Homo sapiens: one gene and its partner. The protein of the gene in region 1 purifies or fractionates together with the protein of each later gene. This does not show direct contact. Each region holds a gene or a part of one and is shown on either strand. Other genes may lie near its edges. The genes, in order: GUCA1B and LYPLA1.

What was found.
Region 2: the proteins of GUCA1B (region 1) and LYPLA1 purify together in Homo sapiens (affinity purification with mass spectrometry; one large-scale study listed by BioGRID and IntAct). This does not show direct contact.

The regions. Positions count from the first base shown.
Region 1 is NC_000006.12:42,184,947-42,188,767, forward strand, and holds part of GUCA1B (guanylyl cyclase-activating protein 2), read right to left. Parts: intron 3,786-3,821; coding exon 3,636-3,785; intron 852-3,635; coding exon 734-851; intron 1-733. UniProt on the Homo sapiens protein: Stimulates two retinal guanylyl cyclases (GCs) GUCY2D and GUCY2F when free calcium ions concentration is low, and inhibits GUCY2D and GUCY2F when free calcium ions concentration is elevated.
Region 2 is NC_000008.11:54,049,731-54,053,551, forward strand, and holds part of LYPLA1 (acyl-protein thioesterase 1), read right to left. Parts: intron 3,027-3,821; coding exon 2,925-3,026; intron 1,459-2,924; coding exon 1,282-1,458; intron 1,047-1,281; exon of another isoform or gene 1-1,046. Other genes in the region: LYPLA1-TCEA1 readthrough, read right to left, coding at 1,282-1,458, 2,925-3,026. UniProt on the Homo sapiens protein: Acts as an acyl-protein thioesterase. Hydrolyzes fatty acids from S-acylated cysteine residues in proteins such as trimeric G alpha proteins or HRAS.

The DNA of each region.
Region 1 (3,821 bases):
GCAAGGGGGAGGAGAGGTGGTCATGTAGAAGAAGGGGAGACCTGGGTCTGGGGGCAGGAGGAGAGACCTCGCTCCCAGGATGCGCCTACACGTCTTATGCCAACTATCCTGCAGTCTCAGACCTCAAGCTTGCGGCTTGTCAGGTGTCTGAATCTCCAGGAGTCTCCTGCCACCTTTAAGGGGCTTTCTTTGCTGATGAATTGAAGTTTTACTTTTGCGCATGGTACCACGGAAATGCTGGGTGGAGCTGAGAGAGCTGGAGGGCTCAAGTGTGTATTCCAAGCCAGCTCTCTCCCCACATAGCCCTGAGGCTGGGCTTTGGGCTACAGGGAGGAAAGCCCAAGCAGCCTGAATGGAGGTCTACCCTATGCCTGCTCTTAAACACATTATCCTATTCATTCCTCTCAACCACTATTATTATCCCCATTTTCCAGATGAGGAAATTGAGACTAGGACGAGAAGCTCAATATATCACTCCCTGCCTGACTCCAAAGTTCCTATTCTTTCTATTCTGCGTGCCTGGCCTCCATCAGCAACTCCTGTAGGACTTTTAGTCACTCCTACAAACACGTGCTCATGAGTCCCTTTGTTAGTTCATGACATCTTCTCCACAGCCTTCTCACAGATGAGGACCCCAGGGTTGGAAGGTGGAGGGCCTTGCCCAAGGACGTGCGGCCAGAAAGTGGCGATGATGCAGAGTGGACAGCACTCTCCCCATCTCTGCCCCTCTTACCATCTCCATTCTCATCCACCAGGAGGAAGATCCTGTCCACGACCTCCTCGGGTGTGAGCAGCTGGCCTTGCTCAGTTTGTAGCTCTCGCCGGCAGGCTTTCTTCAGCTGGTAAATTCCCTGCCAAAGAAAACTCAGCTGCATTGACGGGAGACCCTGAAAGCTCCACCTTCACCCCAGTGACCCACATCCCCCAGCACCACTTCCCCAGTGCTGGCTTCCCAGGCTGTGCGTCTTAGGATCACATAATCTGGATCCAGATCAAAACTGACCTGTCCTAAGGCGGTGCTCTCAGAATCCCACTGGCCTAATTCCAGCTGAGTTCCCGGCCTCACACCCCACCTGACCCCAACACCATTTGCATTTCCACTGTGAGCTGCAAAGCCCAAATCCAAAACCTCTAATGAGGGAGGTTTAAGTCACCATGACAGTCTAAATTGCATTCTACACAGGAAGAAATAGAGATGCAGAGAAGAAAATTCAGTGTATCTATATAAGTGTGCCTGTATATGTGTAAAACAGAATGATGGGGATACACATGTTCCCTCCTCATGGACTGGAGGGAAAAACCCAGGTTTCTCCTTTGCCCTGTTTCCTCTCCCAATGAGACTATGTTTGTGAAAGCACCATGTAGTCTGGGCGCTGTGGCTCATGCCTGTAACCCCAGCACTTTGGGAGGCCGAGGCGGGTGGATCATTTGAAGTCAGGAGTTCAAGACCAGCCTGGCCAACATGATGAAATCCTGTCTCTACTAAAAATACAAAAATTAGCTGGGCAAGGTGGTGGGCGCCTGTAATCCCACCTACTCAGGAGGCTGAGGCAGGAGAATCGCTTGAACCTGGGAGATAGAGGTTGCAGTGGGCCGAGATTGCGCCACTGAATTCCAGCCTGGGCAACAAAGCGAGGCTCTGTCTCAGAAAAAAAAAAGAAAGAAAGAAAGCACCATGTAAATGCGGAAGAGATGGACACATATGATGGTTCTCCTTAGCTCCCAGGCTGGCGCTCCCTGAGGACAGAAGCTGCGTCTTATGCACCTCTATGGCCTCACTGCTCAGCCCAGTGCCCAGCATAAAATAGGCCTCATCGACGTGTCTTGGGAGACTGAGGGGTTAAATCCAGCCCCAGCACTTCCTAGGTAGACTAATTTGGGCCGATTACAGAATCTCTATGAAGCAGCTTCTTGCTCTGTGAAACAGGGCTAACGATGCCTGCCTCATAGCGCGGGTCTGGCTAACCCAGGGAACACGCCAGAGTCTGGGATGTACTAGGCACTTCTTTTCTTCCTTAATCATTCTTGCTAATAGAGAATGATTGTTAGTCTTTTAAAAGAAATAACTTCTGATCTTCTTGACTTTTTCTCATGCATTTGTGTTTTCTATTTTATTGATTTCTGCTGTTTATTTTCTTTCTTCTACTATCTTTCGATTTATTTTATTTTATTTTTTTGAGACGGAGTCTTGCTCTGTCACCAGGCTGGAGTGCAGTGGTGCAATCTCGGCTTGCTGCAAGCTCCGCCTCCCAGGTTCAAGCAATTCTCCTGCCTCAGCCTTCCGAGTAGCTGGGACTATAGGTGCCTGCCACCCCACCCGGCTAATTTTTTGTATTTTTAGTAGAGACAGGGTTTCACTGTATTAGCCAGAATGGTCTCGATCTCCTGACCTCGTGATCTTCCTGCCTCGGCCTCCCAAAGTGCTGGGATTACAGGCGTGGGCCACCGTGCCCGGCCAAGGGTTTATTTTACTTTTTTTTTTTTTTTTTTTAAAGACAAGGTTTCACTCTGTTGCTCAGGCTGGAGTGCAGTGGCACAATCACAGCTCATCGCAGCCTCGACCTTCCAGGCTCAGGCAATCCTCCCACCTCAGCCTTTGGAGTAGCTGGGACCACAGGTGCGTACCACCACGCCCAGCTAATTTTTTTGTAATTTTTGTAGAGATGGGGTCTTACTATGTTGCCCAGGCTGGTCTTGAACTCCTGGGCTCAAGTGATCCACTCACCTCAGCCTCCCAAAGTGCTGGGGTTACATGTGTCAGTCCCTGTGCCTGGCCTTAATTTACTCTTCCTTTTTTCTAATTTCCTGAGATGGTTTCTTAGATCATTGATTTTCTAATATATAAAGTCTTATTTTCTAATATAGTATGCAATTTCTAATTATTTCCTAAGATATATTTTCTTTTCTTTCTTTTTTTTGAGACAGGTTCTTACTTTGTTGCCCCAGCTGGAATGCAGTGGCATGATCATAGCTTACTGCAGCCTTCAACTCCTGGCTCAAACAATCCTCCCACCTCAGTCTCCCAAGTAGCTAGGACTACAGGCATGTACCTCCAAGCCTGGCTAATTTTTAATTTTTTTGTAGAGATGGGGTCTCGCTTTGTTTTCCAGGTTGTTCTTGAACACCTGGGCTCAAGCAATCCTCCCACCTCAGCCTCCCAAAGTGCTGGGATTACAGGAATGAGCCACTGCACCCAGCTTCTGTTTCCAAAATATATGCATTTTAAGTCTTATTTTCTAATATGTGTATTTTAAATCTATAAATTTTTCTGCAGGTTCAGCTTTAGCTGCATTCCACAAGTTGTAGTATGTCATGCTTGCATTATTTTTCAATTTAAGATACTTGTCGTGTGTGTGTGTGTGTGTGTGTGTGTGTGTGTGTGTGTGTTCCACAGAGTATGTGGAAGTCTACTGCCTAATTTCCAAACAGATGGGGATTTTCTAATAATCTTTTTTTGATTGATTTCTAGCTTAATTCCACTAGAAATTACACACTCAGAATGAGAACACAGGAAACACACTCAGAATGATTTCAAGGCCTCTTCTTCAGTCCCCGCTGGCCACTTGTGGCCAACCTTCAGAGCTCCAGCAGTGCTCTAGTGCCCAGGCTGCTGGCCCATGGGCAGAGACACTAACCTCCACAATGTTGAGTAGCTCCAGGCGGTCGATGCAGCCATTGCCATCCTTATCATAGATCTTGAATGTCCACTTCAGCTTGTGCTCCAGGGTGCCCCTCAGCACGAGATTCAGAGCTGCCACGTACTCCAGGAAGTCGATGGTGTTGTCCTGCATTAGATGTGGATGCTGCTGAGGGCACAGCCC
Region 2 (3,821 bases), on another chromosome or scaffold:
ATCCCACTGAAGAACAGATTTCCTACTCTTCTTCCTGTTTACCAAAACTTTTTTAAAAGGTCTATACATGTTGCCTCTGCTTCCTCATTTCCCTATCCACTTCATACAATCCTTTGCATTTTGGCTTTATCTACCCAAACATCCAAGGTCACAGGTGGCTTAATATTGGGTACTTTCTTCCTAAACTATTTCTCCTTAATCCTTCTCTGGAACACATTACACATCTCCTTCCCACTCTGAAATTCTCTCCACCCATACTCTCAACACCTAACTCCTTTTCTCATTAGGCTAAACTGTAATGTGTCCCCCAAAGTTCTATCCCTGAGCTTTTTTTCTTATAATGCTTTCTCAAGATAATTCTTCGTTGATCAATTATATTAGTAATTATTTCAAATCTCCATTTCCAGGCTTGAACTTCAGACAAGTATTTCCAATATCCTATTTTGATATTGTGGGGGCACATTGATCTCAATACATTAAACTCAGTATTATCTCCTTCCTTTACTCTAAAACTGTTTCTTGCACCTACTTTTTATGATGGCATCAGAACTAGAAATCTCAGGCCCTTTTGATACTTCCTTGGTTACTACACCCCACATAATTAATCTCTAAATCCTGCTGGATCACCTGTCTCTAGAATGTAGATCAGATCACATCTCACTTCAACCAAAAACACTGACAGCTTCCTGCTGCCTAGAGAGTAAGTCTAGTAAGTCCCTTCTCAGCACAAAGAGTCTCTGTTCCCTATGTCTTCTGTCCTATCATGCCCAGCTTTTCCTAAGACTGAATGGCTTGCTTTTCCTGTCCTATAGTTCTTTCTCTGCACATTTGCTATCCAAATCCCACCGTTTTTCAAAATCTAGCTGTTTCATCATGGTCTCAGTGCCTCCTAAGATAAAATTAATCTCTTCTCAGTTTTTCAGGGCACCTTTTGTTATTTTCCAAGGGCACTTTTTAAAGCTTCTAATACAATGTATATCACATTCTGCTATCCATACAGTTACTTAGACATGCATCTTTCTATTAAATTTTATCTTAAATTTTAATGAAAGGGAATGTTTATTATTCATCTTTGAATTATGTACAATGCTGTGTATAATAGCCAATCAGTAAATATTTGTTGAATTAAGTTGAATACACACTCATCTAATGACTGCTAACTTATGACTCAATATGAATTAACTCATTTAAATCCCCAAGCATTCAAATGTTACTTTTCTTGAAAATATCACATGAAAAAAGTTACAAATATGGCGCTGATCACTGCTTCTAGACACCTACCTGTTGACACGAACTGTGCATCATACCTTCATAGGTTTTAAAGGTCACATTGGCTGGATTCACCAATGTTTTTAGTTTTTCCACCGTAAGAGAACCAAACATCAGGGGAACCAAAGGGTCACAATCCCCGTGGCACTGGAGAATAGAAATATCTCTATTAGCACCACCGATAGGACCCTGCAAAAAGCAAAAGAAGAAATAGTTTTATTTTTGTAAAAGTATAGGACACTATGCCAGGCATTTAAAATTGTACATAAATATGCATATATATAACATATTAGAAGTTACATTTGGCCAAAAAAATAAAATTCCTTCATCCATATACTCACCACATCCCTTTGACTTCTATAGGATGTATGATCACCTTGCCTCATATTATAATATATATCTTCCCAGTGAATGAGTTCCTTGAAGCAGATTATATATACATTTTTTTGTTTCGTTTAGTTTTTTTGAGACGGAGTCTTGCTCTGTTGCCCAGGCTGGAGTGCAGTGGCGTGATCTCAGCTCACTGCAACCTCTGCCTCCCAGGTTCAAGCAATTCTCCTGCCTCAGCCTCCCAAGTAGCTGGGATTACAGGCACGTGCCACCACGCCCAGCTAATTTTTTTGTATTTTTTAGTAGAGACAGGGTTTCACTGTGTTACCCAGGATGGTCTCAATCTCCTGACCTTGTGATCCACCTGCCTTGGCCTCCGAAAGTGCTGGGATTACAGGCGTGAGCCACTGCACCCAGCCAAGCAGATTATATTTTAATCCATCTTTATATTTTCAGCTTTTTTTTGTTTGTTTGGTTGGTTGTTTTAGTATTTTGAGTTGCTGTTTTATTCAGCTATCTTTTTTTTTTTTTTTCCCCCAAAGACAGAGTCTTGCTCTGTTACCCAGGCTGGAGTGAAGTGGCACAATCGTGGCTCACTGCAACTTCCACCTCCTGGGTTCAAGTGATTCTCATGCCTCAGCCTCCTGAGTAGCTGGGATTATAGGTGTGCACCACGACGCCCAGCTAATTTCTGTATTTTTAGTAGCCATGGGGTTTCACCATGTTGGCCAGGCTGGTCTTGAACTCCTGACCTGAGGTAATCCACCCGCCTCAGCCTCCCAAAGTGCTGGGATTACAGGCATGAGCCACCGCACCTGGTCTAAAAATAAGTATGATTTCTATATGTTAAAAAAAGTCCTAATTTTCATATATATCCTAAAATGTATCAAATCCTTCTAATATAAGATTTGTGACAATAAGGTTTCTTTCTAATTCCATTCTATGTACTCCACAATACAGACAGTATAGCGTACAGAAATAAGGCCTAGTAATACATCACAAAAGTCTAAGAAAATTATTTTTAAAAAAGGATGAGTGCTGTAAGTGGAGGACTTGGTGATGGTGATGTGTCAGTGCAGCATTACTGACTGCAGCAAAAACATGGCTGTGGAGGTGGGGATGCTGATGGTGGGGAGGCTGTGCATGTGTGGGGACAGGAGGTAGATAGTAACTCTGTACCTTCTGCTCAGTTTTGCTGTGAATTTAGAACTTCTCCAAAAAATAAAGTTTATTAATAAAAAAAAATAAGATGACTTTATCTCCAACAATATCTACTAGCTACCTTTAGCTCAGTAATCTCATGTTGAGTGCATCAACCAAGTTACCTGTGGAAAGGAAGCCCGAAGTGGAAGCCAGCAACTGAGTGCAGTGACACCTGCCAGTTTCTGCTGTGTGGTAAGGGCAGTATATAAAGATAAAGCTCCTCCCTGAAAAGACAAGCAGGGAAAGTCAATGGAACACACATGCTTGCCCACAGCAATTTAGGGAATATCTTGTTACTAATGATATCCATAAAAAAATCAAACTTGGTGGCTGGTGTCAAATCAAATCAGGCAAATATCGGAAATACAAACACACCCCACCGTGTCCTAAAGGATGCGGTTCTCTACACCAGAGAACATACAGACTTCCTTTCCGACGAGACATAGTTTGTACCATGGGAAACTGCTGCACTTACAACATGCCTTACGAATATTCTGAATTTATATTTTCTCCTTTGCAGAATTTTAGGCATAAAATCCAATCTGCTCTTAAATTGGTATTACTTTTTTTTTTTTTTTTGAGATGGAGTTTCACTCTTGTTGCCCAGGCTGGAGAGTAATGGTGCAATCTTGGCTCACCACAACCTCCGCCTCCTGAGTTCAAGCGATTCTCCTGCCTCAGCCTCCCGAGTAGCTGGGATTACAGGCATGCACCACCACACCCGGCTAATTTTGTATTTTTGGTAGAGACGGGGTTTCTCCATGTTGGTTAGGCTGGTCTCAAACTCCCGACCTCAGGTGATCCACGCGCCTCAGCCTCCCAAAGTGTTGGGATTACAGGTGTGAGCCACCGTGCCTGGCCCTTAAATTGGTATTACTTTCTAAATGAGAATTTAAGATAATAATAACTATTTAGCAGACACCTTCAGAGTATCTGCCTACCCAGCTCACAACATCCCACATTCTGGAAGCTGTACTCCTGCCAGCATCCAGAAGCCCCATCACTCTGACCATGCCCAT